2 separate regions of the Homo sapiens genome follow, and region 2 is reported to be linked to region 1. Evidence: microRNA targets listed by miRTarBase, many of them from high-throughput screens and not tested one by one. Region 1 holds a microRNA gene; the other region holds the end of a gene's coding sequence.

Evidence for each region. The annotated mature microRNA hsa-miR-6808-3p reads GUGUGACCACCGUUCCUGCAG and lies in region 1 at 1,634-1,654, shown strand. An mRNA with a match to its seed (bases 2 to 7 or 8) in the 3' UTR can be bound and repressed. Matches are read on the target gene's strand: a 7mer-m8 pairs with bases 2 to 8, a 7mer-A1 pairs with bases 2 to 7 and ends in A, and an 8mer does both.
Region 2: miRTarBase lists LAIR1 as a target of hsa-miR-6808-3p. Seed matches in the 3' UTR shown: 7mer-A1 at 1,270-1,276 and 7mer-m8 at 3,124-3,130.

Annotation. Positions count from the first base shown.
Region 1 is chr1:1,337,908-1,341,303 of GRCh38, reverse strand. MIR6808 (microRNA 6808) reads left to right here and starts at 1,596; the gene lies at 1,596-1,654. It overlaps DVL1 (dishevelled segment polarity protein 1), which reads left to right. Exons shown (of 15, transcript NM_001330311.2): 6 at 801-894; 7 at 988-1,057; 8 at 1,127-1,266; 9 at 1,492-1,568; 10 at 1,655-1,722; 11 at 1,865-2,017; 12 at 2,651-2,782; 13 at 2,868-3,035; 14 at 3,121-3,327. RefSeq lists a silencer at 3,301-3,360.
Region 2 is chr19:54,352,345-54,355,740 of GRCh38, reverse strand. LAIR1 (leukocyte associated immunoglobulin like receptor 1) reads left to right here. Exons shown (of 10, transcript NM_002287.6): 10 at 327-3,396. The coding sequence ends at 473. Among named protein-coding and RNA genes, the nearest start is that of LAIR1, 11 kb to the left of the region's middle.

The sequences.
Region 1 (3,396 bases):
GTATGTGTGTGTGAGGTGCGTTTTCACAGTGTGCACGTGAGCGTTTTCACAATGCACGCGTGTGCGCAGGTGTGTGCATGTGTGCGTGTGCGTGTGTGCAGGTGTGCGTGTGCAGATGTGCGTGTGTGCAGGTGTGCTTGTACAGGTGTATGTGAAGGTGTGCGTGCAGGTGTGCATGTGCAGGCGTGCGTGTGCAGGTGTGTGCAGGTGTGCCTGTGTGCAGGGGTGCGTGTGTGCAGGTGTGCATGTGTGTGCAGGGGTGCGTGTGTGCAGGGGTGCATTGTGCAGGGGTGCGTGTGCAGGTGAGTATGCAGGTGTGCATGTGTGCCTGTGCAGGTGTGTAGTGTGCAGGGGTGCGTGTGTGCAGGTGTGCATGCGTGTGCAGGTGTGCGTGTGTTCATGCGTGCGTGTGCAGGGGTGTGCATGTGTGCCTGTGCGCAGGGGTGCATGTGTGCAGGGTTGCGTGTGTGCAGGTGTGTGTGCAGGTGTGTGCATGTGTGCCTTGTGCAGGGGTGCGTGTGTGCAGGTGTGCATGTGTGTGCAGGTGTGCATGTGTGCAGGTGTGTCAGTAGTGGATCTGGCTACATGTGTCTGTGCCCAGTTTGCCTGTCTCTGGGATTTTCGTGTGTGCTCATATGCATATCACGTGTGCAGGGCCTGGGGCGTGGACGTCAGGCACTGAGCCTGCTTTGGAACAAGCCTGGCCTAGACCCCCGATTCCCACTCAGTATTGGGGGAGCGGGTTCCCACCCCCCTACCCATGTCTCCAGCTCCTCTGAGCTCTGACAGTCTGTTCCCAGGCTCAGCAGCTCCACGGAGCAGAGCACCTCATCCAGACTCATCCGGAAGCACAAACGCCGGCGGAGGAAGCAGCGCCTTCGGCAGGCGGACCGGGTAGGCAGCCGGGTGGAGCAGGGCGGGGCTGGGGAGGCGAAGTCAGTGTCGGGCAGCCCCGTGCCTTTTACACACGCCCCCTCTCCTCCATAGGCCTCCTCCTTCAGCAGCATAACCGACTCCACCATGTCCCTCAACATCGTCACTGTCACGCTCAACATGGGTGAGGCCTCGGGGCGAGGGTTGGGGGCAGGGGCAGGGGCTTGGCCGCGGCTCATGGCTCTTCCTGCAGAAAGACATCACTTTCTGGGCATCAGCATCGTGGGGCAGAGCAACGACCGTGGAGACGGCGGCATCTACATTGGCTCCATCATGAAGGGCGGGGCTGTGGCCGCTGACGGCCGCATCGAGCCCGGCGACATGTTGCTGCAGGTGTGTCTGTGGGGGCTGCGGGGTGACATGTAGCTGCGGGTGGGTCCGTGGGGACTTTGGGGTGACGTGCGGCTGCGGGTGGGTCTGTAGGGGCTGCTGGGGGACATGCGGCTGCGGGTGGGTCTGCGGGGGCTGCTGGGGGACATGCGGCTGTGGGTGGGTCTGCGGGGGCGGTGGACTGAGCTGCACATCCTGCCTGCACCACCCTAATCCCCACCCCTGCAGGTGAATGACGTGAACTTTGAGAACATGAGCAATGACGATGCCGTGCGGGTGCTGCGGGAGATCGTTTCCCAGACGGGGTGAGGGCTGGGGGCGCTGGAGCGGGAGGGGCCAGGCAGGGAGGTGGGACCATGGGGGCCTTGCTGTGTGACCACCGTTCCTGCAGGCCCATCAGCCTCACTGTGGCCAAGTGCTGGGACCCAACGCCCCGAAGCTACTTCACCGTCCCACGGGGTGAGTGGCCCTCGGGGCACACGGGGCGGGATGGGGAGGGGGCGCCTACCTAGCCTGAAGGCCTCTCTCCTCTGTGCCCTGCACCCTGCCCTCCCACCCTGTCCATCTGTCCGCCTGTCATCGCCACGTGGCGGCCACCCAGCTGACCCGGTGCGGCCCATCGACCCCGCCGCCTGGCTGTCCCACACGGCGGCACTGACAGGAGCCCTGCCCCGCTACGGTACGAGTCCCTGCTCCAGCGCCGTCACGCGCACCAGCTCCTCCTCACTAACCAGCTCCGTGCCTGGTGCTCCACGTAAGTGGCAGCTCCTGAGGGCCCCAGCAGAAACCGAGGCTTGGAGGGGGCGTCTCTGCCAGCCTCCAGCATGGCCGCCTGTGGCCGTCATGGGGCTGTGACACGTGTGTGTTGCCTGTCCCCAACTCCCTGCACAGACGTGTGCACAGGCACCCGTGCCCACCTTGTGCAGCCCATCCTGCTCATGGTCTGTGTGTTGGGAACAGGGGATGTACGTAGGGCCCCTATGCGGGGAGCACCCACGGCGTCAGAGGCAGGGGCCAGGTCTCCATTCTGCTTCCTGCCATTAACACGACTAACAGCCTGCGCTCTCGGGTGGGGCATGCGGGGAGGGGAAGGGGCCTGCCCTGTTCTCATTACTTCCTGGTCTGCAGGGTGGGGTGTCAGCCCAGTTTGTGCCTAGGATCCTGATGAAAAGTGTCTGTAGAAGTGGGAGACTAAATGTCCAACCCCCCTGCTCACGCCCCAGCCTCACGGGGGTGCATCCTGCAGTGGGCCGGGGCCCTGCTGTCACGCACCGTCCAGCTTGCGCCCTGGCGCAGGCTCTGCCCAGAGGCTCCCCTGGGGGTGCAGGGCCCTGAGTCCCCCGCCTTCAGATGCTGGGGCTGAAGCGGGGCTGTCTGTGCTTTGCAGAGCTGGAAGAGGCGCCGCTGACGGTGAAGAGTGACATGAGCGCCGTCGTCCGGGTCATGCAGCTGCCAGACTCGGGACTGGAGATCCGCGACCGCATGTGGCTCAAGATCACCATCGCCAATGCCGTCATCGGTGAGTGGCCGTCCCCGCGGGCGGATAGTGCCAGGGGCAGGGCTGCTTGCCTCGAGGCTGCGGGCTGACCGCTGGTGCCGGCCAGGGGCGGACGTGGTGGACTGGCTGTACACACACGTGGAGGGCTTCAAGGAGCGGCGGGAGGCCCGGAAGTACGCCAGCAGCTTGCTGAAGCACGGCTTCCTGCGGCACACGGTCAACAAGATCACCTTCTCCGAGCAGTGCTACTACGTCTTCGGGGATCTCTGCAGCAGTGAGTGGGGGCTTCGGGCTTCAGGGCGGGGGGGAGGGGAACGCCGGAGGCCCCTCCGCGGCCCTCACCTACCCTCCCCCGCCAGATCTCGCCACCCTGAACCTCAACAGTGGCTCCAGTGGGACTTCGGATCAGGACACGCTGGCCCCGCTGCCCCACCCGGCTGCCCCCTGGCCTCTGGGTCAGGGCTACCCCTACCAGTACCCGGGACCCCCACCCTGCTTCCCGCCTGCCTACCAGGACCCGGGCTTTAGCTATGGCAGCGGCAGCACCGGGAGTCAGCAGAGTGAAGGTGAGAACGCCGCCCCTACCTGCCCTTCCCCGGCTCCGCCCCCAGCTCCGCCCCACTCCACTGCTGCTC
Region 2 (3,396 bases), not on the chromosome of region 1:
GTGGGCAGGAAACCTCTGTTCCTCTCACAGGGGCCTCTCCACACAGCCGGCTTCCCCCAGAGGGAGGGATCCAAGGATGGGTGGCAGGGAGGGGACAGAAGCACCATGTCTTTTGGCTCAGCTTGGAAGTCAGGAGTCTTCCCTTCTGCCTTGTTCATTGTCACGTAAACCAACCCCAATACCCTGTGGGAGGGCTCTTCACACGGATGCAATTTAGGAGAGGGTCCTCAGGGCCCATGGAGATGGCCGCCACAGCCCTCCCTCCCCACAGCCCCTCGTCTCACCCTCCACCAGGCACTCCCTCACCCTGGGTCTCTCCCTCTTAGGCCCTGGCTGCAGGGAGTTCCCAGGAGGTGACGTATGCTCAGCTGGACCACTGGGCCCTCACACAGAGGACAGCCCGGGCTGTGTCCCCACAGTCCACAAAGCCCATGGCCGAGTCCATCACGTATGCAGCCGTTGCCAGACACTGACCCCATACCCACCTGGCCTCTGCACCTGAGGGTAGAAAGTCACTCTAGGAAAAGCCTGAAGCAGCCATTTGGAAGGCTTCCTGTTGGATTCCTCTTCATCTAGAAAGCCAGCCAGGCAGCTGTCCTGGAGACAAGAGCTGGAGACTGGAGGTTTCTAACCAGCATCCAGAAGGTTCGTTAGCCAGGTGGTCCCTTCTACAATCGAGCAGCTCCTTGGACAGACTGTTTCTCAGTTATTTCCAGAGACCCAGCTACAGTTCCCTGGCTGTTTCTAGAGACCCAGCTTTATTCACCTGACTGTTTCCAGAGACCCAGCTAAAGTCACCTGCCTGTTCTAAAGGCCCAGCTACAGCCAATCAGCCGATTTCCTGAGCAGTGATGCCACCTCCAAGCTTGTCCTAGGTGTCTGCTGTGAACCTCCAGTGACCCCAGAGACTTTGCTGTAATTATCTGCCCTGCTGACCCTAAAGACCTTCCTAGAAGTCAAGAGCTAGCCTTGAGACTGTGCTATACACACACAGCTGAGAGCCAAGCCCAGTTCTCTGGGTTGTGCTTTACTCCACGCATCAATAAATAATTTTGAAGGCCTCACATCTGGCAGCCCCAGGCCTGGTCCTGGGTGCATAGGTCTCTCGGACCCACTCTCTGCCTTCACAGTTGTTCAAAGCTGAGTGAGGGAAACAGGACTTACGAAAACGTGTCAGCGTTTTCTTTTTAAAATTTAATTGATCAGGATTGTACGTATTCAAGGTGTAAAATGTGATAATTTGTCGTACACGTACATTGTGCAATGACAGTCACAATCAATTCCTCAGCGCACCCATCGCCACAGATACGATACATTAGATATTCTGAACTTGCTCATCTTAGGACTTCACATTGGTGTCAGTGTTTTCTGACAAATCACGTGTATCAGGAATGAATGAGGGAGGTGTGGCTGGGTGAAGGCAGAGAGCCGACCCTACAGGTCCACATCTGCACATACATGCACAGGAATGCATGCTCTCACACACATGCATACACACACGCACACACACAGACATGCACATACACTCACACGCCCCAGGAAATCCAAGGAATCACTGAGCCTGCTGTTGGTTGAGGCATTTCTGAGTATCCACCCTACCTGTAGGGTCAGATGTACTGATTGACACAGAAAATTACCCTATGTACCACTAGGAGGCGGCAGAATCTCATTTGGGTTAATCTGTGTTTGTCTTTAAAAAACAAAAACAGGCCGGGCATGGAGGCTCACGCCTGTAATCCCAGCACTTTGGGAGGCTGAGGTGGGCGGATCACGAGGTCAGGAGATCGAGACCATCCTGGCTAACACGGTGAAACCCCATCTCTACTAAAAATACAAAAAAATTAGCCGGGTGTGGTGGTGGGTGCCTGTAGTCCCAGCTACTCGGGAGGCTGAGGGAGGAGAATGGCGTGAACCCGGGAGGCGGAGTTTGCAGTGAGCCGAGGTGGTGCCACTGCACTCCAGCCTGGGCGACAGAGCGAGACTCCGTCAAAAAAGAAAAGAAAAGAAAAGAAAGATTTTTAAGAATTCAGCAAAAACTCAGCCAGCTCTTTCTATGGGGCAGTTGCTAATTTAGTTCTAGGCAAACGTGGACACATTAAATTCTCCTACAAACCCTCCACAGCGTGCTCTATTATTTTCCTCATTTATAAAAACAGAAACTATGGACCGAGACATGAAGTAACCTGTCCAAGGTCGGCCAAGTCTCAGAGACAGGGGCTTCAGACCCACCTGAGGCTCCTGACTCCACATTATGAACCCCGGGATGGGCTGCAGCTCGGTCTGCTGGGAGGTTTCTGTGCTGGTTCAAAGAGGGTGGTACCTGACTGGCCTACCCAATTTTAATTTGTACTGAGCTTTAATTTTCTATTTGTGCTCAGGTTTAATTTCCTCCTGGGATCTGCTTCCCAGTGCTGTACTCTGTATCTTTGCTTTCTTGTGTGAACATTGTGACCGATTTTCCCTGTTCTTCACGTGGGACACATTCTCCCTGCTCTGTCTGTCTCTGTCCCTGTCTCTCTTTCTGTCTTTCTCTCTCACTGTGTGTCTCTCTGTCTCTCTCTCTCTTTTTTTTTTTTTTTGAGATGGAGTTTCGCTCTTGTTGCCCAGGCTGGAGTGCAATGGCACAATCTTGGCTCACTGCAACCTCTGCCTCCCGGGTTCAAGCGATTCTCCTGCCTCAGCCTCCTGAGCAGCTGGGATTACAGGCATGCACCACCACACACGGCTAATTTTTTGTATTTTTGTTAGAGACGGGGGGCTCTCCATGTTGCTCAGGCTGGTCTTGAACTCCCGACCTCAGGTGATCTGCCCACCTCAGCCTCCCAAAGTCCTGGGATTACAGGCATGAGCCACTGCGTCCAGCCGTCTTTGTCTCTTTTTCTACATCTCTGTCTTTCTTCTCTGGTTGTTTTTCAACCATCAGCTGGGTGTTTTCTCCCATAACGTCTTGTTTGTTTGACTATGAGGTTGACAGGTGGGTACATGAACTCTATAGCAGAAGGTGGACAGTCTGCACATAGCAGAGGATGGGTGAATTTTTCTACCCCTTGCAGAGCACAGGAGAGCTGAGCAGATGCCAGTGTCTGCTCCAGTGTAAGGAAGTCCAGGAAGTTCAGGTGGTGAGGTCACAGTGGAAAGCAGGACAGATAGAGTTTAGGGGAAATTAAGCAAAAATACCACACTGTTATTTCTTGACATATTAGTGGAAAGAGGAAGGGCCCAGAGAGAAGACAGAAAATTAGATGCAGGGGCTTGTTTTTTCTCTTGACTTGCCAACCCGCCCAACGCAGGGGCCAGAACTCAGGGTGGTGAGATCTGGGAACATTGCTGTGCGGAGAAGATGTCCCTCCTGCTGCACGGGCCCCCAAGCACCACCTGGGGGAAGAGCCATGTTTA